4 linked regions of the Homo sapiens genome follow. The protein of the gene in region 3 purifies or fractionates together with the protein of the main gene of each other region. This does not show direct contact. Each region holds a gene or a part of one and is shown on either strand. Other genes may lie near its edges. The genes, in order: SLC12A2, TCTN2, CLGN and LNPEP.

Region 1 (7,027 bases), on a different chromosome or scaffold from region 3:
TGGTGCAAAAGTCATTGCGGTTTTTGGCATTACTTTCAATGTCAAAAAATGCAATTACTTTTACACCAACCTAATAGGATGGTAGCAGCTTAGATGAAAAGAATATTTAGAAATTCAAGTTGACAGAACTCAGTGATTGGATGGGGGAATGAGAGAAAAGTGTCAAGGATGACTCATAGGTTTCTCACTTTTGCAGTATGATGAATAGTGGTACCATTCCGAGAGATATAGCACACACTGGCAGAGGGCCTGGATTCTTGTTTCTGGAGGGAATGGGAAGAAATACTAAGTTTGTGAGCTTGAGTTATCTTTGAGACATAAAACAAAAATGTCAAGCAAGCATTGGATACCCAGAACTCAGAGGAGTGTGGGTAGAAGACGAAATTTCGGGAGTCATTGGACTACAGATGATGTAGCATAAGGAGAGAAAAAAGAGGAACAAGGAAGGAGAAAAGTCCAAATAAAGCCTTGAGGATGTTCAGGTTAGAGAAGGAGGCGACTGCAAAGGATGCGAGGCTGAAAGAGTCAGAAAGGCAGAAGGAAAACTAAGAAGCCAAGGAAGTGACCAAAACACTTCAAAAGAACACCAAATGCTGCCTGAAAGCTGAACACTGCTCAAAACAAAACAAAACAGAACAAAACAAAAACTTCCTGAAATTTGTGATAAGAATGGAGATCACTTGTGACTTTAACAAGAACTATTTATGCAAAATAGAAGCCACACTACAGCAGTTTGAGTAAAAGGTAAGGAAGGAAAGACGGCAATTATAAACAATACTCTCAACAAGTCTGGCTGAGGAAGGAAGGAAAGAGCTTGTACCTGGAAAGGAATGAGAGTTAAATAAAATATTCCGCTTTTTCTGTCAGATAGAAGCTACTCAAATTTCTTTAACAGAAGTAAACTATTGACAGGAACAGTTAAATATCCAAGAAGAAAAATGAAAATCATAGGACCTCAGAACCAAACTGCCAAGTACTGTTTACATCTACACTGTCCAATATAGTAATCAAAGGTCACAAGGAGCTACTACTTCAACACCATTGAAATGTTTGTCTGAATTGAGATGTGCTGTACTGTATGTGAAAAACACACGGGGTTTCAAACTTTGTACAAAAAAAAGAAATTGAGATATCTCATTATAAATGTTTTAATATTCATTATATCTGCAATGAATGTTTTAGACACAGTGTCAAATAAAATACGGTATATTATAAATTAATTTTGCCTGATTCTTTACTTTTTTAAATGACATATGTAGTTCATATTATATTTCTATCGGACAGCACTGATAAAGACCTTAAATGGTAACAGGCCATAATCACAACAACTGCTAGTCCAAACTTCGGACTGGGGTCCTCAGTCCAGACATGCTCTGTGAAGTTTCCTACCTCTTTCCAAGACCGTCAGCCCTATAGCCCAATTCTTGAATTGCAGCTAAATGTTTTAATCACCCCCTTCCTCTCATCTTGGCTACTGCAATGGTTCCATTAAGATGATAATGGGCTTTTACCAAAGTGGTTGTGACTGATACAATGAGAGGTATTGAGATACTGGATGTGTTTCAAACGTATAATTGTTCAGATTTGCTGATAGTCTGGATGGGGATGTATGGACAGAGTAATACCTATTTAGAATGGAGTTGATATTAATGGAGAAGTCTGTGGGAAGGGCAGGTCTCTAATGATTAGGGTCCTCTAAGTCTTTCCCCACTGGAATACTCAAGCCTGCCCTGCCAAACCACCTACGCTCCCTTGCAAAAGTCTCCAAAATGGCTAGCATACCATACCAAATTCTGTTTGAAACTAAACTGATGGAAGAACTAATTCACACTTACCCAACAAAGAACTATCCCACAGGTTTCCAGAATTCTGAACCTAGATGAATATCTAATTTGTGACTATTCAGAAAAAGCACAGAATTTTTTTAAAAATTAAGGCAGGGAAATTTCTGAGTCCAATGATACTATGAGTGTACTAGCCATAATTAGCTTCTGCTGAGAGTCAACATTCCACTAAGCTATTTTTTCTTTTTGGCTTTCCCCCTTCTTCCAATTAGAAACCCCCAAGTTCTCTACCAGCTCCAAGTTTTTCATAATAGCTTTAAGCTAGTGTTGGTAGAGATCCTAGTGAAAATGGAAAAAGACAAAGGAGGGCCTCAGCTGATAGTAGCTTTCATGGTTTAAATGAGACACCACTAATGTTTTTAACTTCAGTATTTTAAGTAATTTTCCTTGTTGCTCACCCTCAGTGGGCTTTCACTTTGTGGAATCAACCCACTAGTTCCCTACCCCTTTGTACAGTATTTGAAAGACTACTAGTTTTCATGGTTTTACCTGAAGAGCAAAAGCACATTTTTACGCTAAAAATGAAAGCTGTTTTCTTAAGTTCTACTATTTAACAAACCAGTATCTGCAATTTTACCTGTTTGCCTCATTGGAGAACTAATTTGTAGAATGAAACCCTATCTTGAGTCCATCTCCCAAACCTGCCCTTCTCACAGACTTCTCCATTAATATCAACTCCATTCTAAATAGGGGGAAAACCCTAGTATTACTCTGTCCATACATCCCCTCATCCAAACCATCAGCAAATCCCAACAATTCTACCTCTGAAACACATCCAGCATCTGAACACCTCTCATTGTATCAATCACTACTACCTTAGTAAAAGTCATTATCATCTTAATGGAACCATTGCAGTAGGCTTCTAACTGGTTTCCTGCCTTCTACTCTTGCCCCCTTACAGTATATTCTCTACACAACAATCAGCGTGGTATTTTGAAAACATAAGTCAGATCATGTCAAATCTGTGCTCAAAACCCTACAATGCCTTCCCCTAAATCACTCAGAGTAAAATCCTAAGTCTTTATCATGATCTGCAAGGTTCTGCGCTATTTGGTCCTCACTACCCCCTGACTTTATCACACTGCCTCATCAATTCGGTCTTGCTGACCTCCCTGTCTCTCCATCACACCAAGCACACTCCCATCTCAGGGTCTTGGTATCTGTTGTTCCTCTGCCTAGAGTGTTCTTTCCCTGGTATCTGCATGGGGGTCACCCCTTTCTAGAGCCTGCTCACATATCAGAGGTCTTCCCTAACAATGCTAAAACAGCATCACCCAGCCATCATCTAGCCACCTTTAATTTTCCTCGCCCTGCTTTAATTTTGTTTGTTTATTGTCTCCTACCGCTAGAATGAAAGCCCCATGACTTTGTTTTGTTTACTGCTATATCCCCAGCATTTAGAACAGTGTTGTTGTTGATGTTCAACAAGGATTTGTTGAATAACTAGGTTCACATTTATTTCACTTCAGCATAGGACTATACTATAGACTTCCCAAATATATATATGTAACATATAATGAAATATCATTGAAAGCAAACACACTCCACACATAAGAACCAAGAAACTCTATTTTGGTCCTTTAAATTCTAGTCTCACAGGATTTTAAAATGTATGAACATAAATACACACAGAGAAGATATCAATTTAGCAGTGTACTGATTTTTTGCTACATTTTAAATCCCAAAATTTCTTTCCTTCTACCCAGGAAATTTTTATGCTAAAAATTAAAAGCTGTTTTCTATTTAACAAAGCAGTAGCTGCAATTTTACCTGTTTGCCGCATTGTAGAACTACTTCAGTCAGTGTACACCTGGGGGAATGCATTTAGTATTATGGGTAAGCCTGACTTCAATGGCAAGTAGCATGGGTTTAGCAGGGCAAAGCCCCTGGCAAAACTGTGAAATCAGCCAAATTTGACTTTGCCACATGTAAATATTTCTTATCAGGGTCCCACCTTTACCCAGTTCTGGACACTACTCTACTCTTCCCCTCACCCTCGAGAGACACATTCTTGTTCCCCCAGGGTGACTTTCAAGGACTAAAGCTATACACTGAAATGATTAATAGTGTGTGAAATTTCTTGACTAGGCATCAACACAGCCCACTCAGAGAAGCAGCTCATGGTTAGAGGAGATTCTGTAATTATTTAGTGTTTTACTTAAAGTCCTTGTTAAGTGACAGGAACTGCTCACCTGATTTGTACATTCCATGAACAAATCTTTATTAAGTGCCTATTCTCTGTATGAAGATAAACACTTATACAGATGCTAGTGAAGAAGTCATAATAATATTTACATCATCACATCTCTTGATTTCTGTCAGTTATATAATCATTCAACTCTCAGGAGTTCAAGGTAGAGAAATGGTGGTGGTAATCCCCAAGGGGTCCCCCTCAACATCTTTGTTATCTTAGAACAGGTCTAAGGGATAGAAAAGATAAAGAGAGAAGAACCTGCTGCTACTATGTCCTAGCATTAAAGTCAGAAAAACCTGGATGTGAAGTCCAAATTGAGCTGTACTACTATTTTTTTTTAGACAGGGTCTTGCTGTTTTGCCCATGCTGAAGCGCAGTGGCTGTTCACAGGCATAATCACAGTGCACTACAGTCTCAAACTCCTGGGCTCAAGCAATCCTCCTGCCTCAGCCTCCCAAGCAGCTGGGACAACAGGCTCCTACCATGGTGCCTGTCCTCCAGCTGCACTTTTTGTAAAAGTGGCTATTAAGCAATTTCTTGTGTTTCTTTCTTTTTTTTTTTTTTTTTGGAGACAAAGTTTTGCTCTTGTTGCCCAGGCTGGAGTGCAATGGCGCAATCTTGGCTCACTGCAATCTCCACCTCCTGGGTTCAAGCAATTCTCCTGCCTCAGCCACCCAAATAGCTGGGATTACAGGCATGCGCCACCACGCCTGGCTAATTTTGTATTTTTAGTAGAGACAGGGTTTCACCATGTTGTTAAGGCTGGTCTCGAACTTCTGACCTCAGGTGATCCACCCGCCTCGGCCTCCCAAAGTGCTGGGATTACAGGAGTGAGCCACCGCACCTGGCCAATTTCTTCTGTTTCTATTAGCTCATTTCATCTTGAGTAAAATGTGTATAAGACCTATTTCTTAGGAATTAATGAAAATCCAACAAGCAAAGTGACACATGAAAGACAATATAGTTGCTCCCTTGACCTTTCCCCTTGTTAATGAGAAAGGCAAAAATACAGGAATCATATAGAAACCCTTGACATACCACCAGCAAAAGGCTCCTAAGCCTTGGCCCAAGGACAACTGCAATGGTAATGCTACCTTTAAAAACAAAAATATTAGAAATTATGGTTTAGCAGTCAAAATAGTAAAACACAAAATAGTAAAACACACACACAAAAAACAAACAAACAAAAACAAAAAACTACTTTAATAATGCTTTAAATCCAGTAGGAGCTAGTATGGATTGTCTACCACTCCACTTTCCACATTTGATAATCTAGCATTCCATCATACATGTTGAAGATGTCCATCAAATACTTTGTTACCCTCCACCTTTTATTTCTTCTTGTAGGGCCAAAAATCCATACTTTGATTTTTCACTCTGTGTGTGTACGTATATACATTTTTAAATCAATTCCTAGCATCAGCTTTGAAGAGTTTCTGCCTTTCCAAAAACTCTTTTCTCTCAGCTTCCCCCAACACTGCTCTCCAGGCTATTTGACAGTATGGCAGCTCTTCCTTAATTTCCTTTGCTAATGGCTCCTCAATCTCTAACAGACCTTTAAACAATCTCCAAGTCCAATGCCAGACCCTATTTTCTGTTCTCTTATCTACCACTCTCCCTAAGTAATTTAGTCCATGACCTTAAGCAACCAAATCTTTATATGTAAATATATATATTTACATATGTTTATATACAGACACACACACACACACACACACACACACACACAGAGCCTCCTCCACGACTCTTGGAATAAGTTGTCTTTGTCTTTATAGGCTACTGAAACAGAATAGCCTCAAATACAAACTTCTCCCAACCACCAAATCTATTCCTCCTCCAGTATTTCTCATCTCAAGCAACAGTACCAACATCTATTAAGTTTCTCAAGTTCAAAATCTACAAGTCAGCTTCTTTCTCACTCCCACATCCAATCCTTTGTGCCACCAACCTTTACTATCTCTCAACCAGACCACAGTAATCACTTGAGTCTCTTTGCTTCCATTCTTGCCCCTGCCAATCCATTCTCCACCCAGAGCCTAAAGATGTTAAAACAAAATGGGTCATGTGGCTACCCCACACAAAATTCTTCAATAGCGTCCCACTACATTTATAATGAAAAATAGTTATCTCCTTTTAGTTATGTTAATATACCACTCTTTCTCACCCCATTACCTTCATGTGCGCTGTCCCTTTGGTCAGGACTGTCATTCCACCCAATCATCAACTTACCCTTCAGGTCTCAGCTTCAATGTCATACTTCTCAAAAAAACGCCTTCCCAAAACCCAATTAAAATTAGGTCCTATTCTATCTTTACAAGTATCCTTTTCTTTCGTAACACTTAAAAAACAGTTATTAACTATGTTATTTGTCCAACTACTTTGTTAATGTCTGTCTAGGCAGAAGCAGTAACTGGTTTGCTAATCACCACATAATCCCACAATGTCACAAGCATGTTGTCAACATCTAAGATACCCCCTTCCCCAATAACTCATAAATGGAGAACTCATGCCTACTGGTCCTAGAATGGCTATATAATATAGCAAGATGCACCAAGGATATTTATCTTTTCCCCTACAGTTGGACATCTAGACAAAATACTTTTAAAAAGTCAGTGATGGATAATGAAAGGAATTCAACTGGAGGGAAGACAATCCAGTCCTTTTCCCTAACAAGTTTCTGAAGTATTTTACTTCTTTTCTTCTTCTGTAGTTCCCAACACAGAGTTAGTCCCATGGTAGATAATTATGCACTTAGTAGACCAAAGTAGAGTATATGCCAATCAATCGACTGCTAGAATTAGGTGTTATAAAAATTCTAAATATTATAATTCACTGAAGGCTAGAAACATTACAGAAGGTGTTAGAGAGGTAGAAGTCAATTTAGACAGAGTAAGGGACAACTTCTGGGGATCCAGCCAACCTGTTATAACCCCTCCTGTCTGCCCCTCTTTCGACAGTGATGTATAGTCATATTTGTACTACTTAACAC
Region 2 (7,576 bases), on a different chromosome or scaffold from region 3:
AAGTTTAGAAAAGCAAGACAGACTCAAGTGAAGTATACTTTACAAATTGCATGGCATACACTTATAATCAAACAGGTAAGCTTGACACAAATTTTTCTTTTTTTGTTTTTGTTTTTGGTTTTTTTTGAGACAGGGTCCCACTCTGTCACCCTGGCTGGAACGCAGTGGCGCGATCACAGCTCATTTGTAGCATTAACCTCCCGGGCAGCTCATTTATAGCATCAACCTCCCGGGCTCAAGCAATCCTCCTACCTCTTCCTCCTAAGTAGCTGGGAACAACATGAAAGTTTTGACAGTCAAAGACTTCACTTGCCTGAGGCATTATGGGTCAGAGAAGAGTTGGCATAAATTTCCACTTGAATGAGTAGATGTGCTGAACAGGATGAATTATGAGATGCTGAAACCAGAAGGGTCTGGAGGATACAGGGGGACTCTGAGAAGGAATCTGTCTCATTGGAGGAACACCAGTCCAGACCTCTCTTCCACCTCACTGTCACTTCCAACACCTTCTGAAAGGAAAACATTGCTGTATTTTTAAAGTGACTCAAAACAGGGTCTATAAGAATACATAATGGAAAACACAATAAAAGTACACATCAGCCTCCGTTCATTTTATAAAAGGGAAATGTATACAGAGATGACACAGTTATCTTCAGTTCCCCCCCATAAACCTATGGTAACATGCAAGCCCTGATTCTTCTTCCTTAACATAAAAGCAAACAACTTCGGGATACTTAGAGAAAGCTAAACACAGATCTGATAAATAAACTCAGTTTATTGTACACCTTTTTAGTTTCTTTATCATCCTATCAGTGGAAGAGTAAATACACAAAAAAAGTCAATGAAAACAATCCTCAGTTTATCCCAGAATGACTTTAGACATGTACATGTTCACTCCTGGGGTACAAGCAGAGCTTGTCTTTCCTGTCCTTTTCTCTCCAGAATTGATGTTGCATATACTAGGTATCCAATAAACACTTATTAAATAGAAGATGCTTAATCTCTCCAGGTTTGAGTATCCTTACACATAAGCTCAGAGTTGGGCAAGATCAGTGGTTATGAAGCTTTTTTTTTTGAGACGGAGTCTCGCTCATCACCCAAGCTGGAGTGCAGTGGCGTGATCTCGGCTCACTGCAATCTCTGCCTCCCGGGTTCAAGTGATTCTCCTGCCTCAGCCTCCAAAGTAGCTGAGATTACAGGCACCCGCCATCACGCCCAGCTAATTTTTGTATTTTTAGTAGAGATGGGTTTCACCATGTTGGCCAGACTGGTCTTGAACTCCTGACCTCAGATGATCCGCCCTCCTCGGCCTCCCAAAGTGCTAGGATTACAGGCGTGAGCCACCGCGCCTGACCAGCTTTTTCTTTTTTTTTAAGAGACAGGGTCTTGCTCTGTTGCCCAGGCTGGATGAAGTGCAGTGGTGCGATCATAGCTCTCTGCAGCCCTGAACTCCTGGGCTCAAATAATCCTCTTGCCTCAGCTACCCCACCCCCCTCCAAGTATCTGGGACTGTAGGTGTACGCCACCCACCTAATTTTTTTTTTAATTGTTTTGTAGAGACGAGGTCTCGCTATGTTACAGGCTGGTCTGGAACTCCTGGGCTCAAGCAATCCTCCCGCCTCAATCTCCCAAAGCGCTATGAGTACAGGCGTGAGCCACGATGCCTGGCATAAAGCTTTTTTGAATCACTGACCCATTTGATGATCTAAAGGAAACTGGTGACCCTCTCATCAGAAAAATGCACATACACACAGAACTTTACATACAATTTCATAGAGTTCACAGACCCACTGAAATACATCCAAGGACTCCTAACCCCAGGGTAAGGAACCCGTGGGCTGGATAAGTGTCTACCAGATCCAACAGCCCACAATTTCATGATTGTTGAGAGCATGGAGAAAGCCATGCCTTGTTAAATAAAGAGAGCACTGCAGAAACCCTAGCTGGGGGCCTCTTCACAGGCTACAGAGAAGGTTTACTTCTGGCCTTACCGCACCGGGGATCACAGTCACGCTCCAGTCTTCCGTCTCATTGTTCAGCACTCCACACGTCGGAATTGGCAATATTCCTAAAGAAAGAAGACCAGCATGCAAAGGCAGCAAGGTCCAGCAGCTCAGGGGGTGCATTGAGTCAGACTGCCTAGGATGGACTCACATTACAGCCTAAGATTGGGCCCTTTACAAGCTGCTTGACACTGGGACAGTGACAACCTCTCTGAACTTGTTTCTTCCTTGGTCAAAGGGGATGAAAAGATATTACTGTTCTTACTAGGAAAATGGGATGATGCACGATGTTAGCTCAATGAATGCTAACCATTATTATTTCAGGCTTTCTTCGAACCTGTCCGTCTGTCCTCTTTGGCCTACAGCAGCCGCCCGATCCTTTTCTCCCCATGCGACTTTGCAGAGAACAGAGGCAGGGGGCCCCAAGGATGCCACCTCTCCAGGCTCCTTGGGAGGTCTGGATCCAGTCCAACCCCCACCCTCCCCAAAAGAGGGCCGGACTTTACCCGCCTCGTCCTGCAGCACTGCCAGGGACACGGTCACACCCTCGGTGTCTCCGACCAGGGACGCGCTGACCGCAGGGCCGGACATTCGGATAAAAGGAGGGATGAAAGCTAGGCGGGAAGGAAAGGGGACAAGGAGGGGTTAGCAGTGGAAGAATCACCGCCTAAGGTGTGTGTGGCGGCTTGCTTTGGCGTTGTCGACTCCCGAAGCTCCCGGGGGAGTCCAAGTCTGGCCCTTTTAACGCCCAGTCCCCTCAGCCCCGGCCCACCGAGGTCACTGCCGCGCCGTACACACCCAGGTCCCCCCACAGAAGCCTCAGGATGCCCTGCAGAAGGAAAAGCCTCAAAAGAAGAGCGGCCGGAGGCTGGAAGCCCATGCCTTAGACCTCGCGGGCCGGGCACAGCAGAACCGCGCCCTCATTAGAACCCAGGAAGGACTCAGACACGAAAACGCAGCAGCCACTGCCCCGCCGCCGCCATCTTGCAAGCGAACGCCCGGAGCTATGGCAACCACCAATCGGCGGCCGGCCAGGAGGAACGCCGCGCTGTGATTGGACCAGTGGCAAGAGCGGGCACCCCGGCCCCGCCCACAAGGCCTAGCATTTTTGCTGCTTGACTCTGGTGGGGAGAGTGAGGGCTGAAAAACTACCTATCCGGTGCTCCACTTAGTACCTGGGTGACGAAACAATCTGTGCACCCAACCCCCGTGACACGCAATTTACCTATATAGCAACCTGTACATGGACCCCTGGGCCTAAAAGTTGAAAACATCAAAATTAAAAAGGTCCTGAAAAGCAGGAGTGCGTGTCCGGCTCAAAAACTGGAGTTTTCCCCTACCCTGGAATTAATCCAACAATAGCCAAGAGCGATCCTATAGACACTGGCTTCTAAATAAAAAGGGTGGGACTTGCTCCTTAATAAACTTGATTTTTATACGGATTTGTTTTAGGGGTGAGTAGAAAAAGGGGATGGGGCTGCCGCGCTGTGTTTATTATCTTTACTATCGTTTATGATGTATTATTTATATTTTATATTTTTATAAAATAAATATATATTTACAAAATAGATATACTTTGTTTTATATATATATATCAGATATACATACTTGATATATATAAAATACATATAGGCCGGGTCTGGCGGCTCATGCCTGTAATCCCAGCAATTTGGGAGGCCGAGGCGGGCGGATCACAATGTCAGGAGTCTGAGACCAGCCTGATCAACATGGTGAAACCCCGTCTCTACTAAAAATACAAAAAATTAGCCAGGCGTGGTGGCAGGCGCCTATTATCCCAGCTACTCAGGAGGCTGAGGCAGGAGAATTGTATGAATCTGGGAGGCGGAGGTTGCAGTGAGCCGCGATTGCACCACTGCACTCAAACCTGGGCGACAGAGCCAGACTCCGTCTCAAAAATATATTTATTTATTTATTTATCTTATAAAATATATATGTATTTATATTTTATCTTATATATATTTATCTTTTATATAAGTATATATTTTGTAAATTTTATACTTATATGTTATAATTTTATAAAATTTATATTTTTATAATTCTTATCATTATCATTTATTATCACTATTGCTTTTATTATCATTCTCCTAGGTTTTTGAAGGATTTTCTCCCCTGCACAGAGCTCTCAGCACTCTGAAAGCAGATCCAATCACAGAACACACAAGAGGTTTTGCCCAGCAATAGGACAGATGTGAAAGAATCAAAATTCTGTCTGGAAAAAAATTGTTTTTTCTTATATCAGTAGCCTCAGAACATTTCAAATATTGTCACGGCTTGGGGACTGAGAGTGCAGGGTCTGAGGTCAGGCTGCCTGGCATGGGATTTCGCCTTCCCTCCACAGATATTCTCAGCTGTTAAGTGACTTTGGGCAAGTCAACCTCTCTAAGTTTCAGCTTCCTCATCTATAAAAAAGGGATGATAATAATCCTTCCTTGGGGATTGTGTGAGGATGAAATGAGGTAACATATCTAATGAGGTTAAACCAATGGCTGGCATACAGTAAGCACTCAGTTAATGATCAGTTACTTGTTAACTATCAGAGAGGTGGTGTATCCTTTAGCTGAGACAATCATGGTGTTCAGCATTGTGGCTGACTGACGGTAAATGCCAAGTAAATGTTTGCCATTATTAGTCTTTTTTTTTTTTCTTTTTGAGACAGGGTCTCACTCTGTCACCCAGGCTGGAATGGTGCAGTGGCACAATCATAGCTCACTGCATCCTCAAACTTCTGGGCTCAGCTGATCCTCCCACCTCAGCCTCCCAAGTAACTGGCAATACACCACCACACCCGGCTAATTTTTGTATTTTTTATAGAGACGGGGTTTCACCATGTGGCCCAGGCTGGTCTCAAACTCCTGGGCTCAAGTGATCCTCCTGCCTTGGCCTCTAAAAGTGCTGGGATTACAGGTATGGGCCACCGTACCCAGCCCCATTATTACTCTTAATGTTCAGTTATATATTCATTGATCAGCAAATCTAACATTGTGAAAGGATTCTGAAAGTTGAGGCTTTATAAGGGCCTGACACTGGGTGTTATCTTTTTCTTATACTCCCTGAAAAACTGTGGGTCACTACAGTTGTAACATGAGCATGAAACTTTTCCCGTGTACCTCAGCTCCTCTCTGGAAGACTGCAAAATGTTTACCTCTCTTGATATCTTGGAATGAAGCCTAGGAGAACGTTACTAAGAGGAAGCTGTCAAACACTTAAATATTTCTGTTATTCCCCATCTGTCTTTGGGGGGAATTAATCTGCAAATTAAGTTGGCAAGGCCAAGCGGTAAAGATTAAGAGATAAATCCTCCCAAAAGAAAACATTTCTGGGCCGGGCTTGGTGGCTTATGCCTGTAATCCCTGCACTTTGGGTGGCAAAGGCACATGGATCACTTGAGGCCAGGAGTTCAAGACCAACCTGGGCAACACAGAGAAACCCATCTCTACCCAAAAATACAAAAATTATCTGGGCGTGGTGGCGCATGCCCGTACTCCCAGCTACTCGGGAGGCTGAGGCAGGAGAATCGCTTGAACCCAGGGGTCGGATGTTGCAGTGAGCCGAGATCGCGCTACTGCACTCCAGCCTGGGCAACAGAGTGAGACTTCATCTCAAAAAAAAAGATAGAAAACACTTGAAGCTGGTGATCAGCAGCTTCCCGATAAGATCTCAGGAGTTGGGCAAGCAGGCTCATGCATACATAGTAAGAGGCAAGATGGCAGATTTTAACTGGTATATAACCTTCCTCTGGGAAGGCTCGACTGGTAAAGGAAAATGCCTCAAATGAGCATGCGCACAACTTCAGTAAACACACTGCACATGCGGCCCCTCCCAAGTGCTGGCAGGCCACTGACATGCAGACAGCCCACCCCAAGGAAAAATCAAGGGAGGGCACAAACCTCAGAACCATGCTAATGTATAGAAACCCCCAGTGAAGGGTCGGACGGGGCACTTGAATCTCTCAAGTCGCCCGCTTGGCCCTCTTCCAAGTGTACTTTACTTCCTTTCATTCCTGCTCTAAAACTTTTTAATAAACGTTTACCCCTGCTTTAAACTTTGCCTTGGTCTCTCACTCTGCCTTATGCTGCTTGGCCAAATTCTTTCCTCTGAGGAGGCAAGAATCGAGTTGCTGCAGACCTGTACAGACTCGTCACTGCTAACGGTGATCCAGGGAATTCTCCAAGATCGTACCCAAGATCACCAAGGTGGCACCTCTACAAATATGTAAACTATTCATATCTTGAGTAGTAGACTAAAAGGCAAACCTATCAAAAATAATAACTACAGCTTTTTAAGACATAGTATAATAAGATATAAATATTGTAGAAACAAAAAGTTAAAAATCAGAGGGATGAAGTTAGAGTATTAGTTTTCTCTGCTTGTTTTTGCAATCAGAGTTGTCATCAGTTTAAAATAATGGGTTATAAGATGGTATTTGCAAGCCTCATGCTAAACTCATATCAAAAAGCCTACAACAGATACACAAAAATATAAAGCAAGAAATTAAAACATACCACCAGAGAAAATCACTTTCATAAAAAGGAAGATGGAAGGAAGGGAGGAAGGGAAGATCAGAAAACAAATTTAAAAATGGCAGTAGTAAGTCCTTACTTATAAATAATAACATTGAATGTAAATGGACTAAACTCTCCAATCAAAAGACATAGAGTGGCTGAATAGATTTAAAAAAAAAAGACCTAATGATTAGCTGCCTATAAAAACTCTTCACCTATAAAGACACACATAGACTAAAAATAAAGGGATGGAAAAAGATATTCTAATGGAAACCAAAAAAGAGCAAAAGTAGCTATATACTTATATCAGATAAAATAGATTTTAAGACTAGGTGTGATGGCTCATGCCTGTAATCCCAACACTTTGGGAGGCCGAGGCAAGAGGAACCCAGGAGTTGCTTGAGCCCAGGAGTTCAAGACCAGCCTGGACAATACAGCAAGATGCTATCTCCACAGAAAAAGAAAAAAAAGAGGCCAGGCGCAGTGGCTCACACCTGCAATCCGAGCACTTCGGGAGGCCAAGGTGAGTGGATCATCTGAGGTCAGGAGTTCAAGACAAGCCTAGCCAACATGGCGAAAACCCATCTCTATTAAAAATACAAATATTAGGCTGGGCTCGGTGGCTCATGCCTGTAATCCCAGCACTTTGGGAGGCCGAGGTGGGAGGATCACGAGGTCAGGAAACTGAGACCATCCTGGCTAACATGGTGAAACCTCATCTTTACTAAAAATACAAAAAAATTAGCTGGGCATGGTGGCAGGTGCCTGTAGTCCCAGCTACTTGGGAGGCTGAGGCAGGAGAATGGCGTGAACCCGGGAGGCAGAGCTTGCAGTGAGCTGAGAACACACCACTGCACTCCAGCCTGGGCGACAGAGCGAGACTCTGCCTAAAAAAAAAAAAAAAAAAAAATTAGCTGGTCGTGGTGGCAGGTGCCTGTAATTGCAGCTACTCGGGAGACTGAGGTGGGAGAATCACTTGAACCCGGGAGGTGGAGGTTGCAATGAGCTGAGATCATGCCACTGCACTCCATCCTGGGTGACAGAGTGAGA
Region 3 (7,027 bases):
ATTTATAAGGAGGGAAGAGGGTGACATTAGCACTAAATGTTCTACCCTATACCATATAAACAAATTCTTGCTGTACTAAAATTATATAACTTAAACAACCATACAGATCAATAAAGAAATAGATAACACCACAAGCCAACTAAACATAATAAACATATGGACAACACTGTACCCAACAATAGCAGAACACACATTTTTCTTAACTGCACATAGAACATTCTCCAGGATAGACCATATTAGACCACAAAACAAGTCTTAATGAATTTTAAAAGATTGAAATCATACAAAGTAAGTTTTCTGAACACAAAGGAAAGGAACTAGAAATCAATAGTAGAAGGAAAACAAGAAAAATTCACAAATATGTGGAAATTAAACAGCACACTCTTGAACAATGAGCCAAATAAGTCTCAAGAAAAGTTAGAAAAACATCTTGAGACAAATGAAAAGGAGAACAAAAGATACCAAAACTTATGGGATACAGTGAAAGCAGTGTTAAAAGGGAAATTTATAGCTTTAAGCACTTACATGAAAAACAAAAGATCTCAAGTTAACAACCTAACTTACACCTTGAGGAACTAGAAAAAGAGCAAATGAAACCCAAAAGTTAGAAGAAAGAGGGAAATAATAAAGATTAGAGCAGAGAGAAACAAAATAGAAAATAGAAAAACAAGAGAGAAAACAAGTGAAATCAAGAGTTAATTCTTCGAAAAGGTCAACAAAAAAATTAACAAACCTTTAGTTAGATTAAGAAAAATGAGAGAAGACTCAAATAACTAAAATTGGTAATGAAAGGACATTACATCTGATTCTACAGAAATAAGAGGGATTATAAGAGAATACGCTGAAGGATTGTATGGCAACAAATTGGATAACCTAGATTAAATGGATACATTCTTAGAAACACACACTCTATCAAGATTAATCATGAAGAAGTAGAAAATCTGAACAGACCTGTAACTGGTAAGGAGATTGAATCAGTAAACAAAAACTTCCCAGCAGATAAAAGCCCAGGACTAGGTGGCTTCACTGGTGAGTTCTACCAAACATTGAAAGAATTAACACCAGTCCTCCTCAAATTCTTCCGAAATATTGAAGAGGAGTAAACACTTCCAGATTCATTCTATGAAGCCAGCATAACCCTGTTATCAAAGCCAAAGACACTACAAGAAAACTACAGAGCAATATTCCAGATGATTATTGATGCAGAAATTCTTAACAAAATACTTGACAACAAAATTCAGCTGCATATTAAAAGAGTTATATACTATGACCATGTTGGATTTATTCCTAAAATTCAAGGATGATTCAACATAAGAAAATCAGTGTACCATGCCACATTTACAATGTAGGGAGGGGAGAACACATGATCATCTTTATTCATGCAGAAAAAGCATTTGACATGATTCAACACTCTTTCATAATAAAAAACACTCAGTACACTAGGAATAGAAGGAAACCACCTCAACATAGTAAAGGTCATATATGAAAAGCCCACAGTTAACATCAGACTAAATGGTGAAAGACTGAAAGCTTTTCCTTTAAGATCTAGAATAAGACAAGGATGCCTGCTTTTTCCACTTCTCCCGAGCCAGAGAAATTAGGGAAGAAAAAGAAAGAAAAAAGACATTCAAATTGAAAAGGAAGAAGTAAAATTATCTCAGCAGATAACATGATCTTATATGTATGTACAAAACCCTAAAGATTTCACGAACACAATACAAAAGTCTGTTAGAAATAATAAATGAAGGCCAGGCATGGTGGCTCATGCCTGTAGTCCCAGCAATTTTGGAGGCCAAGGTAGCCAGATCAGTTGAGTCTAGGAGTTTAAGACCAGCCTGCGCAACATGGCAAAAACCATCTCTACAGAAAAATACAGAACATTAGCTGGGCATGGTGATGCTTGCCTGTAGTCCCAGCTACTCGAGAGGCTGAAGTGGAGGATCACCTGAGTCCAGGAGTTCAAGGCTGCAATGGGCCATGATGGTGCCACTGCACTCCAGCCTGGGTAACAGAGTGAGATCCCATCTCAAAAAACAAACAAATGAATTCACTAAAGTTGCAGGGTAAAAAAACTAGCACACAAAAATTAGTTGCACTTCTGTATACTAACAATGAACAGGAAATTAAGAAAACAATTCCATTTATAACAACATAAAAAAGAATAAAATACTTAGGAATAAATCAAGGAAGTAAAATACTTGTACATGAAAAATTATGAAATGCTGCTGAAAGAAATTAAGAAACAAATATTAATCAATGGAAAGACATTGTGTTCATTGGGATTGGAAGACTTAATAAGATGGAAACACAACCCAAAGTAATCTACAGATTCAGTGCAATCCCTGTCATAATCCTAATAGCACTTTTTGCAAGAATAGTAAAATTCATATAGAATCTCAAGGGACCCCAAATAGCCAGAACAATCTTGGGAAAGAATAAGTTTGGAAATCTCACATCTCTGTTTCAAAACTTATTACAAAGCTATAGTAATCAAATCAGTGTGAGACTGGCATAAAGACAGACATATATATCAATGGGATACAATAAAGAGCCTAGTAATAAATTCCCACATATATGTTCAAATTTTTTTTATAAAAGTGCCAAGACCATTTTGTGAGAAAGGACAGTCTTCTCATGAGATGATATTGGGGAAACTGGCTATCCACATGCAAAAGAATGAGGTTGTAACCTTACCTTAAATCATAGACAAAAATTAACTCGAAATGGATTGAAGACTTAAACATAAGAAAACTATAAAACTGTTAAAAGAAAACATGGAAAGCTTCATGACATTGAATTTGCCAGTAATTTTTATATGACACCAAAAGCACAGACAACAAAAGAAAAAATATATAAATTGGAAAACTCAAAATTAAAAAGTTCTGTGCATCAAAGAACACAACAAAATGAAAAACCTATGCAATGGGAGAAAATATTTGCCAATCATATATTTGATAAGGGGTCAGTATCCAGAATTTGTAGGAACTCCTACAACTCAAAACAAAAACAAAACCTGATTTTTTAAATAGGCAAAGGACTTGAATAGACATGTTTCCCTTGAAGATGTATAAATAGCCAACAAGCACATGAAAAGATACTCAGTATCACTAATCATCAGGGAAATGCAAATCAAACCACAATATGATACTACGCCATATTAGGACCTATTACAATGACTACTATTTAAAAAAACATAATTTTGAACAAATGTTGGCAAGGATGTGTAGAAATTGGAACCCTTGTGCCTTGTTGGTGGGAAGGTAAAATGGTAAAGCCACTGTGGAAAACAGTATGAGGATTCAAAAAAAAATAGAATTATCATATGACCAAGCAATTCAACTTATGGGTATATACTCAAAAGAATTGAAAACAAGGTCTCGAAGAGTTATTTGTATACCCATATTCATTGTAGGATTATTCACAACAGCCAACAGGTGGAAGCAACCCAAGTGTCCACTGACAGATGAATGTATAAACAAAATGTGGTGTATACACACAATGGAATACTGTCCAGCTTTAAAAAGGAAGGAAATTTGATACATGCTACAACATGGATGAAGCTTCAGGGCATTATGCTAAGTAAAATAAGCCAGTTACAGAAAGACCAATACTGTATGATTCCACTTATATGCAGTACCTAGAGTAGTCAAAATCATAGAGATAGATATTAGAAAGATGGTTTCCAGGGGCTGGAGGGAAGGGTAGTGGGGAGTTGTTAAAAGTGTATAGCGTTTTAGTTTTAGAGCATGAAGAAAGTTTTGGAAATTAGTTGTACAACAATGAGAATGTTTTACCACGTGATTTAAAACAATTTTAAATGCATAAATTAACTACTTCATTTTCTTGTAGTATTACCCCAGCATCTGACCTCTCAGAGTTTCAGTACAGACTTGTCAATAGCATACCTCTCTCTAAGAAATGAGATGTCACAAACCTCATAGTTTTGTTTGGAACTTAATAACATGTTGGCACCATTGTGAGACAGATTTCAAGACTGTGAACTTCAGTATCTAATTCTCAATTGTCAGCTGGTGCAGCACTGAAGAATGATAGGATACTGCAGCATTACGCAGAAAGTATTAAGTCTGTATTTCTGATTTTTTTTTTTAAAAAAAAGAACAAATAAAAACAATAGAACTGCATTGTCTACAGAATGCCTTCTAACCAATTGCAGTTCTTTAAAACTCTCTGTTTTTGTTTTGTTGATTAGGAATAGTACCTACGCTATTCATGTCCTGGGCTGTAAAGATTAAATTAGCTAGTTCTTTGATGTAAATATAAGATCATAGAATTTTAAAGAAGAAACAAACTTTCAAGATAAAGTGTTTTCTGAACTGTTTTCTGAAGCATTGGCAACTATTTCTAAGGAAAAGTCAGGAAAAACTATAATATAGAATACAAATAAAACTGGGGTGCTCTGGTTGAGTTAAGGGTAGAGTTCCAGATAGAGCACTACCTGCTTGGCTTCCTCTTAACTCTTTCTTGGCAGCCCAGTACACCAGAGTTCAAACAAAGCACTTAGAATGTTTTTTTTTCAACAAATTAATTGTTTGGAACCTAAAGTGTACATTCATTTGAAAGAGAGGATATGGGTCTAAAGTTATATTAATGTTCATTATTAGTAGTATTATTTTATGTGTTTTTATTTTGCTCAAAAATGATTAATAGCCAGTCAAGCAAAGTGCCTTTTACTATGTAACATGGAAGGCCCTTAGGCTTTTAGAACAATGAAGCTTTTAGAGTTCACAATTAATAAGCAATTTGCAGATATACAAATTTCTGTGCCAATAACTAGGAAATTAAGGAAATAAGCCTATTTCATTGTGTCAAATTGATCCCTTTACATTTACTTCCTATCCCAGTTATACCTCTTTTGTGATTTAGAGAGATCAAATCCTAGTTAATGACAGCACCCATCATTTTTGTCTTTGTCCATAAATATATAAGTAATTATGTAATTGTGGAATTATAGGAATTATATATGCAAAAGAACTTTCTCCATAGCAGTCTACCTGATTACAATAAGCCCTATATTTGTTTGATCTTTTGAATGTGCTTTGATTTTAGTAAAACTCTACCACATTAAATTTGTGATAAAAAAATTTTTGTATCTTTTCTCAGCATTTATATATAAATGTATTTTGGTTTTATAATTATAAAATTTCCATTTTTATGTTTATATACACTTAAGCAACATTATAATAAAAACAATTTCAGTGAACATTTAGGAATCATGATACTTTTAAAGAGGTCTACATATTATTTGTGTTTGATAACTACTATCATCTTTATCTTTAGATTTTTTTTTTATTATACTTTAAGTTTTAGGGTACATGTGCACATTGTGCAGGTTAGTTACATATGTATACATGTGCCATACTGGTGCACTGCACCCACTAACTCGTTATCTAGCATTAGGTATAACTCCCAATGCTATCCCTCCCCCGTTCCCCCACCCCACAACAGTCCCCAGAGTGTGATATTCCCCTTCCTGTGTCCATGTGATCTCATTGTTCAATTCCCACCTATGAGTGAGAATATGCGGTGTTTGGTTTTTTGTTCTTGCAATAGTTTACTGAGAATGATGTTTTCCAATTTCATCCATGTCCCTACAAAGGACATGAACTCATCATTTTTTATGGCTGCATAGTATTCCATGGTGTATATGTGCCATATTTTCTTAATCCATTCTATCATTGTTGGACATTTGGGTTGGTTCCAAGTCTTTGCTATTGTGAATAATGCCGCAATAAACATACGTGTGCATGAGTCTTTATAGCAGCATGATTTAGAGTCCTTTGGGTATATACCCAGTAATGGGATGGCTGGGTCAAATGGTATTTCCAGTTCTAGATCCCTGAGGAATCGCCACACTGACTTCCACAATGGTTGAACTAGTTTACAGTCCCACCAACAGTGTAAAAGTGTTCCTATTTCTCCACATCCTCTCCAGCACCTGTTGTTTCCTGACTTTTTAATGATTGCCATTCTAACTGGTGTAAGATGGTATCTCATTGTGGTTTTGATTTGCATTTCTCTGATGGCCAGTGATGATGAGCATTTTTTCATGTGTTTTTTGGCTGCATAAATATCTTCTTTTGAGAAGTGTCTGTTCATGTCCTTCGCCCACTTTTTGATGGGGTTGTTTGTTTTTTTCTTGTAAATTTGTTTGAGTTCATTGTAGATTCTGGATATTAGCCCTTTGTCAGATGAGTAGGTTGTGAAAATTTTCTCCCATTTTGTAGGTTGCTTGTTCACTCTGATGGTAGTTTCTTTTGCTGTGCAGAAGCTCTTTAGTTTAATTAGATCCCATTTGTCAATTTTGGCTTTTGTTGCCATTGCTTTTGGTGTTTTAGACATGAAGTCCTTGCCCATGCCTATGTCCTGAATGGTAATGCCTAGGTTTTCTTCTAGGGTTTTTATGGTTTTAGGTCTAACGTTTAAGCCTTTAATCCATCTTGAATTAATTTTTGTGTAAGGTGTAAGGAAGGGATCCAGTTTCAGCTTTCTACATATGGCTAGCCAGTTTTCCCAGCACCATTTATTAAATAGGGAATCCTTTCCCCATTGCTTGTTTTTCTCAGGTTTGTCAAAGATCAGATAGTTGTAGATATGCGGCGTTATTTCTGAGGGCTCTGTTTTGTTCCATTGATCCATATCTCTGTTTTGGTACCAGTACCATGCTGTTTTGGTTACTGTAGCCTTGTAGTATAGTTTGAAGTCAGGTAGTGTGATGCCTCCAGCTTTATTCTTTTGGCTTAGGATTGACTTGGCGATGCGGGCTCTTTTTTGGTTCCATATGAACTTTAAAGTAGTTTTTTCCAATTCTGTGAAGAAAGGCATTGGTAGCTTGATGGGGATGGCATTGAATCTGTAAATTACCTTGGGCAGTATGGCCATTTTCACGATATTGATTCTTCCTACCCATGAGCATGGAATGTTCTTCCATTTGTTTGTGTCCTCTTTTATTTCATTGAGGAGTGGTTTGTAGTTCTCCTTGAAGAGGTCCTTCACATCCCTTGTAAGT
Region 4 (7,027 bases), on a different chromosome or scaffold from region 3:
AGTTAGAATGTATGGAATTGTGAATAAAATTATATTTTATTTTATGAAAATATTTTTATATAATAAAATTTAAAAGGCTGGTAAGCTAAAAAAATAGTCTTCTTTAATCCTAGTGTGTTTTCCCCAATTTAGTCTTTTCTAAAATTTATCTGTTTTAGAGTAGAAAATATTATATCCTGAGAATCACAGAATCATCTAAATATGTCTTATTCAACTGAAGTGATTGTAAGTCTTTATTCTTGTGCTTTGGTTAAATGAATGATAATTTAGTTGATAGTGAAAGTTAATGTGTTTTTATATTTTTAGAGTGAGGGAAAAATACTAAACTTTTGAGAGTTTTGTTGTCGTTGCTGGTTTTTTACCATGTGGTACTAAATTCCACTTTGATACAAAATTTAAATTTTGTAACTTCTCAAAATCACTTAAGATTCTTCAGTTTTACCTGTGCTTCTTGACATCGCTCCTATAATGTATGTTAGTTAACTCTGCATATGGCAAATCTTGTCTTGAATTATATCATTTCTCTCCCTCTCTCTCTCTCTCTGTGTGTGTGTGTGTGTGTGTGTGTGTGTGTGTGTGTGTGTGTGTGTGTAGTGTGGGGGGTATTGTTATGAGTAAAACTTTATCAAAACTTGGCCTGAAAAAGAGATAACTCATGATCCATTGCTATCTTTATTACTCAAAGGCTGTTCATTCCCATAATACCAGATCCATAATAGTTGTAGTTTTTTTGATGTTGTTGCCCTTACCTTAATTATTTGTAGTTTTAGTAGGCCTTGCCTCAGTTTTTCCCACAGAATTCCATAATTTTAATGTTGAACTAACCCATCTATATAGGACTTCTAAAAACTACGTCAGGAATGTAAGGTTAAATGAGAGGTAGAACTTGTAGTGTAATAGGTATAATGGTAGCTTTCAAAGTTTTATCTTCTCAAAACATTGTCTTAGCCAGTGTATTTCTGAGAACTCAGACTGAAGCACAGAAGTCACAGTATGCTTCTTTTATTTAAGCACACAGATTCATGACACAAGTACTTGTTGAACAAGTGTTCTCATTGCAGAGAGATCTACTTGAATATAAAAGGGTCATCATACTAGATTATTAAAAAAGAATTGGAAATCTTGAGTTGTGGAAGAAATGTTTATGCTTTGGAGATCTAAAAAAGTTATGAATGTAGGAATTAGATAAGTCCAGTTTGTTCTGTTAATATAAAATGGTTAGATATATTAAACTGCAAGTAGTATCAGCTTCACCATAAGCTTGGGCCTTCCTCCATCTTGTTTTATTTAAGTCTCTTTAAATGAAATTTTGTTGTCATTGTTTCAGCATTCATGAACTTTCTTACTATCACAGGTTCTACTTTAATTTTCCTTGCCATATGTGTTTCCATTTTGTGGGACATTAGCCACCACAGGAACACAAGAGTTGTCAGAAGACTCCTGGGTGTACAGAGCAAATCAAGCTGCATCAGTATTATAGGATACCAAACAGAATCCTTTCTATTAGGAAATAAGAAATCAGTTAAGTGTTGGCTGGGCGCGGTGGCTTATGCCTGTAATCCCAGCATTTTGGGATGCCAAGGTGGGCAGACCATTTGAGGCCAGGAGTTCTAAACCAGTTTGGCCGACATGGCAAAACCCCATCTCTACTAAAAATATAAAAATTAGCTGGGCATGGTGGTGCACACCTGTAATCCCAGCTACCTGGGAGGCACGAGAATCACTTGAACCCAGGAGGCGGAGGTTGCAGTGAGCCAAGGTTGTGCCACTGCACTCCAGCCTGGGTGACAAAGCGAGACTGTCTCAAAAAACAAAAAACAAAAAAAAAAGAGTTAAGTGTTGATTTTGTTGGATTACTGACAGTTTGTTGAGATGGATTTTAAAAAGAGTCTATTTAAACCAAAGTACCTGGAACCATAATCTGCCATCAGATTGCTAAACATTCACATAATCCCCATGTTTCATGGGGCTTCAGGGAAGGCAAATACATCTGAGATGAGCCACCTCCAAGGACAGCATTTCCTGGGCTGCAAAACTAGATGTGGATTTTGTTACTTAGGCCTCTCTAAAAACTGAGGCCATGGATATGACATAGCTTTTCTTCTCACCTATGCCTTTGTTACTTTTGTATTTATTGGAATTAAATCTCTTTTTAAAGAGCTTCCTTCCCCCTTCATCCCATTTGTATTTTTAAAAACTAAGTTATATATATATTTGCTTGTTTTTGCATTCTTTTATTTTGTGCTCCATTCCCTGCTTTGCCAGTTAAGTACTACCTGAAAAGTAGCGGTTCAAAAGTATGGTAAATCTCCTCCCTTAACCTTATTGCCTGTGTGGGTGACAGCTAATGGAAAAGTTGATCGATTTTTTTCAGTGGTTTTTTTGGGAGTATATACTTTAAAAATGTACATACATGTTTTTGATAGTTTTTATATTATTTCATTTTGTATATTTTTTTCCTGATGAAGAGTGATATATCATCCTATGAAAATTTCATCTACCCTTCCCATTTTACCTGTATGGGCAGTAGCTACAGACTAGTTATTTGGTTTCCTTCTTTGGAAGAAGGTGGTGATGTTGAGAGGAGAGCAAGCTATATTCTTTTAAAAGTGTGTACAGATGTTTTTGCTATTTTGTGTTATTTCATTTTGTATTTCATTCATCCATTTTGTGGACGTGTAGATAAAACGCGGTGGTCCAAAAGCATGACAGATGTCCCCTTTGCGTTTCTCCTTATTGTTCGCATGGACAATAACTGACAGAGTAGTCCTAGTTGCTGTTGTTTTGATCTAGTCTTGGGGCTGGGGTTGTATATTATTCTTTCAAGTGTGTATAAATATTGTGCCACCTTTTTATACTTCATTTTATACTTGTTTCCTTGTATGGATGCATATATACTTAATGAAAATTGAGGTTCAGAGTATGACAAATCTCTTTTCCCTTTTCCTTACTGCCTATTTAGGCAATAGCTAATAGAGTAGTTTGTTTTGTTTTGGGGTGTGGGGGAGAGTGGAGTATGTACTTAATGTATATAAATAAACTTGCTACTACATTGTATTACTAATTTGGTTCACACTGTGTCCTTCTCATGGATGTGAAAGTACCAATGAAATGTGGAGATCTCGATGTATAACAGTCTCCCATTCTCCTCATCCCTTATTGACTGCTGGGCAGTAGCTAACAGAGTAGTTGTCAAGTGGCGTATTTGAGGTGAGGGGGAGGGACGGGGAAGGTAGGAAAATGCACTTAATGTATATACATGTTTTTACTACTACATTGTATTAATTCATCGGGTGCCCAGACTGAAAGGTACCTAATGAACCATGGAGTTCCGGATGTATAACAGTCTCCTCTTTTCCCTTTCCCTTATTGCCCATGTGGGCAATACTTAAGAGTAGTTTGGGTTTATTGAAGATTTTTTGCTAGGAGAGAGAAAATTTTTTGCTAGGAGAGGTTTCAAGGTAAGAGTATATACTTTAAACATGTATATAAATGTTTTTGCTACTTTTCTGTCACTACCTTTCTTACCTTGTCCTTTACATGGATATATGAAGAAAATTGAGGTTCAGCCTGTAGCAGCTCTCCTCTTCTGCCCTTCCCTTAGATTGTCTGTGTGGGCAGGTGTCTAAGAGAGTAGTTGATTAGCTTCAGGGATTCTTTGGTGGGTGTTGGGGTATATACTTTTGTATATGTATGTACATATTTTTATTTCTTTATTATAGTGTTTCATTGGGTACCCGGTCCTTCACTTGGATGTGTAGGTTCCTAATGAGCCATGGAGTTATGGATGTATAACAATCTGTTCTCCCTTTACCCTTTTAATGTATATGGGCAATAATTTTAAAGTAGTTTGGATTTTTTTAAGTTTTGAGGGGTGGGAGGGGTCTAAGGCAGAATATATCCTTTTTAAAAATGTATATATACTTTTCATTAACTATATTGTATTATTTCATGCTGTACCCAGTCCATTGCTTGGACTTACGGGTACCTAATGAAACGTGGAGGTCCGGATGTATGAAAATCTCCTCTTTTCCCCTTTCCTTATTGCCTCTGTAGGCAATAATTATAGAGTAGTATAGATGGTTTTTCTTTTTTATCCATCTGCCTATCTCCAGGAGGATGGGGTGTGCACTTTTAGAAATGTATATAAATGTTCTTGCTCCTTTTTCCTGTTACTTCATTGTGTGCCAAGGCCTTTCCATGGATACTTAGGTACGTAATGAAAATTGAGGTTCATTCTATGAAAAAATCTCCCCTTCTCCCCTTCCCTTATTGCCTGTCTTGGCAATGGCCAGTAGAGTAGTTATTTAAGGGATTTTGTTTTTTTGTTTTTTTGTTTTTTTTTTGGTAGGGGAGGTGGGGAATTTCTGGGTTTGTCTTTTTTTTAATGTATATAAAAGTTTGCTAGTTGTTGTTATTGTTGTTCTTTCACTCTCAACACAGTTTTTTGTTTGGAGTTGTAGGAATCAAATGTAATGAGGGACCCAGACCCGAGAGTGTGGTAAATATTCTTTGCCTTCCTCAGAGCCTGTATACACAAGCAAGTAGTATGTGAGCACTACAGGGCTTGGGTTTTGGTTTTTTGCTTTTGAGGGTTTTAATGAGGAGTGGGATTGTTGAGAGGAAAAGGCAAGATATATAATTTTTTTAATGTATATAAATGTTTTGCTCCTTTTTGATGTTAACTTCATTTTGAATCTGGTCCTTTGTATGACCACTTAGGTACTTAATAGTAATAAAGTTGAGATTGACTCTATGAAAAATATCCCATACTCCCCATCCCTCATTGCCTAGGGGGCAATGGTAGAATAGATGTTTGGTTTCTTTTGGGGGTGTCTGAGTGTATATGTGTGTGTATATACACACAAGAACACACATATTTATATACTATACACACACATTTTAATGTATATAAATATTTGCTACATTCTGTGTGTTATATAATGTGGTACCCAGTCCTCTGCTGGGACATGGATGTACATAATGAAACATGGAGGTCCAGACGTATGATAACTCTCCTGTTTCCCTTCCCTCATTGCCTACAGGGGCAATAGTTTCATATCTTGGGTTTTTTATTGTTTAATTTTTTTTTATGGGGAGGGGTTCTTTGGGTGGGTAATAGTCAGGGGGAAAGGACAGTGTCTATACTTTTTAAAGATGTATATAAATGTTTCATGTTATTGGTTTTGTACCTAGTCCTTTGCATGGATATATAGGTACCTAATGAAAATCGAGGATCAGTGTATGACAAATCTCCCATCCTCCCCTTTCCTTATTGCCTGTGTCGGCAATAGGAAGTAGAATAGTTGTGTGTTGTTTACTTACTTGTCTGTTTTAGAGAGATTTCTATTTTTGGTAGGGGAATATTCTTAATATGTTTTCATATCTTTATTTCATTTTGTAGTCTTTTGCATGGCTATGTAGGGACCTAATGAAAGTCGAGTTTCATAATATGACAGCTCACTTCTTTTCCTACATATTTCCTCACTTAGCAGTAGCTAGTGTAGTTATTTTGTGGTTATTTTATTTCATTCTCTAGGATCTATTCCATTAAGGATGCAAGTGTGTAGATGCATATATATCATTTGCTTCTTTCTTCCGCCATTATTTTCCTTTAACACTTAGTCCCTTGCAAGGGGTCTGACTATACCTAACAAAAATAAAGACCTACTAAATCCCTGCCATCTGGCTGGAAGGTGTAGCAGTGTATTAATGTAACTAATAGCAACAGGTGTGCAGCAGATAAGACAGGAGAAGACACTCAGCTATGGTTGAGTTGTGAAAGCTAATTAGATCCAGCATTTCTTATGTTGATTCAGATTGAATGAGGTAGTGAAAAGGGACCTGTGCTTTTGTAAATTCTAGAAAGGCAAGAGGACAATATTGAATAAAGCTGTGTTTAAACTTCATTGCTCATATATCTTTTAGTAACTGGTAAACCGGCGAAGCTGATAAGCCAATAAGAGTGCTGTCTAGAACGCATTTGCAAACCGTTAAGAGTAGCTTCTTTTTGAGGCCTGGACTTCTGATTCATCTATAGAAGTCTATTATGATTCCATCAATTGCATAGCTTGTGTACCTGGTAGAAATTGTGTCTTGGAATGACCCTTTCGAGTTATTGACATGGCTCTGATGAATAGAACATGAGCCCCAAAACTAAATCCAAAAGGAATTTTCTATCTTTCATCCCCCACATGTGGCAAGACAAGTTGGCCCTTTCTTACCCAGAGGTCTTTTGTGTGACTGCATCTTTCTCCTCCGTTCTCCATTGTGTGCTTTCCATTTTGTCTTTAGTGCCTATACTGTTAGGTGTTTTCTTCACTGGCATTCACAAATTTAAGCCATTGCTGCCTCATTAGCCTTGTATTTTGTGTGCATATCATGTATCCAGACCTGTATGTTCGCTTTAAGCATTCTTATATCACACTGTCTCCTCATCTACCATATGGTAAATGTTAAAACTCCACATTTGTCTGCATCAGGGAAAATGCATGGGCACACATCCTCCCTCCCTCCCTCTCTGCTCTCCTCCCTTCCTTCAGGCCTCTTAGCATTGTTTGTTTTCCCATTTCTGATACTACTACTCCATGCTGAAGATTTGCCATATTACTATTTTGGAAACATTGAGTGATAGAACTCCTAGAAAATTTGCAAAGAAATGTTACATACTGTATATCAAACTCTCAGATTCTAGTGTTGAAAAAGTAGCCTATACTTTGCTATTACTTATACCTGCTGCCATAGAAAAAAATAAGTTTATTCATGACACATTTACATTTGATCATAAATAAAAGAAAAAAGGGCACCTTTTTGGAGTTAGTCATGGTAGTCATTAGTGATATTTCTGAACAGTTCTTAATTTAAAATACTTCAAAGGAAGTAAAGGTCATGGCTTAGCTGAAGGAAATGCTCCAGAAATTGGACTGTGTAAACCATCAGTACAATAATACGCTGTGTATGTATGTGTATATAAAATGAGAATTATGGCATAATTGGAGCATTTGCATTAATCAACAAACTCACATTG

What was found.
Region 1: the proteins of CLGN (region 3) and SLC12A2 purify together in Homo sapiens (co-immunoprecipitation; 3 studies listed by BioGRID and IntAct, with this or other methods). This does not show direct contact.
Region 2: the proteins of CLGN (region 3) and TCTN2 purify together in Homo sapiens (affinity purification with mass spectrometry; 3 studies listed by BioGRID and IntAct, with this or other methods). This does not show direct contact.
Region 4: the proteins of CLGN (region 3) and LNPEP purify together in Homo sapiens (co-immunoprecipitation; 2 studies listed by BioGRID and IntAct, with this or other methods). This does not show direct contact.

The regions. Positions count from the first base shown.
Region 1 is NC_000005.10:128,086,748-128,093,774, reverse strand, and holds part of SLC12A2 (solute carrier family 12 member 2), read right to left. Parts: intron 1-7,027. UniProt on the Homo sapiens protein: Cation-chloride cotransporter which mediates the electroneutral transport of chloride, potassium and/or sodium ions across the membrane. Plays a vital role in the regulation of ionic balance and cell volume.
Region 2 is NC_000012.12:123,666,548-123,674,123, reverse strand, and holds the start of TCTN2 (tectonic-2 isoform 1 precursor), read right to left. Parts: upstream 3,012-7,576; 5' UTR 2,884-3,011; coding exon 2,802-2,883; intron 2,618-2,801; coding exon 2,510-2,617; intron 2,069-2,509; coding exon 1,992-2,068; intron 510-1,991; coding exon 314-509; intron 1-313.
Region 3 is NC_000004.12:140,417,636-140,424,662, reverse strand, and holds part of CLGN (calmegin precursor), read left to right. Parts: intron 1-7,027. UniProt on the Homo sapiens protein: Functions during spermatogenesis as a chaperone for a range of client proteins that are important for sperm adhesion onto the egg zona pellucida and for subsequent penetration of the zona pellucida.
Region 4 is NC_000005.10:97,030,078-97,037,104, forward strand, and holds part of LNPEP (leucyl-cystinyl aminopeptidase), read left to right. Parts: 3' UTR 1-7,027. UniProt on the Homo sapiens protein: Release of an N-terminal amino acid, cleaves before cysteine, leucine as well as other amino acids. Degrades peptide hormones such as oxytocin, vasopressin and angiotensin III, and plays a role in maintaining homeostasis during pregnancy.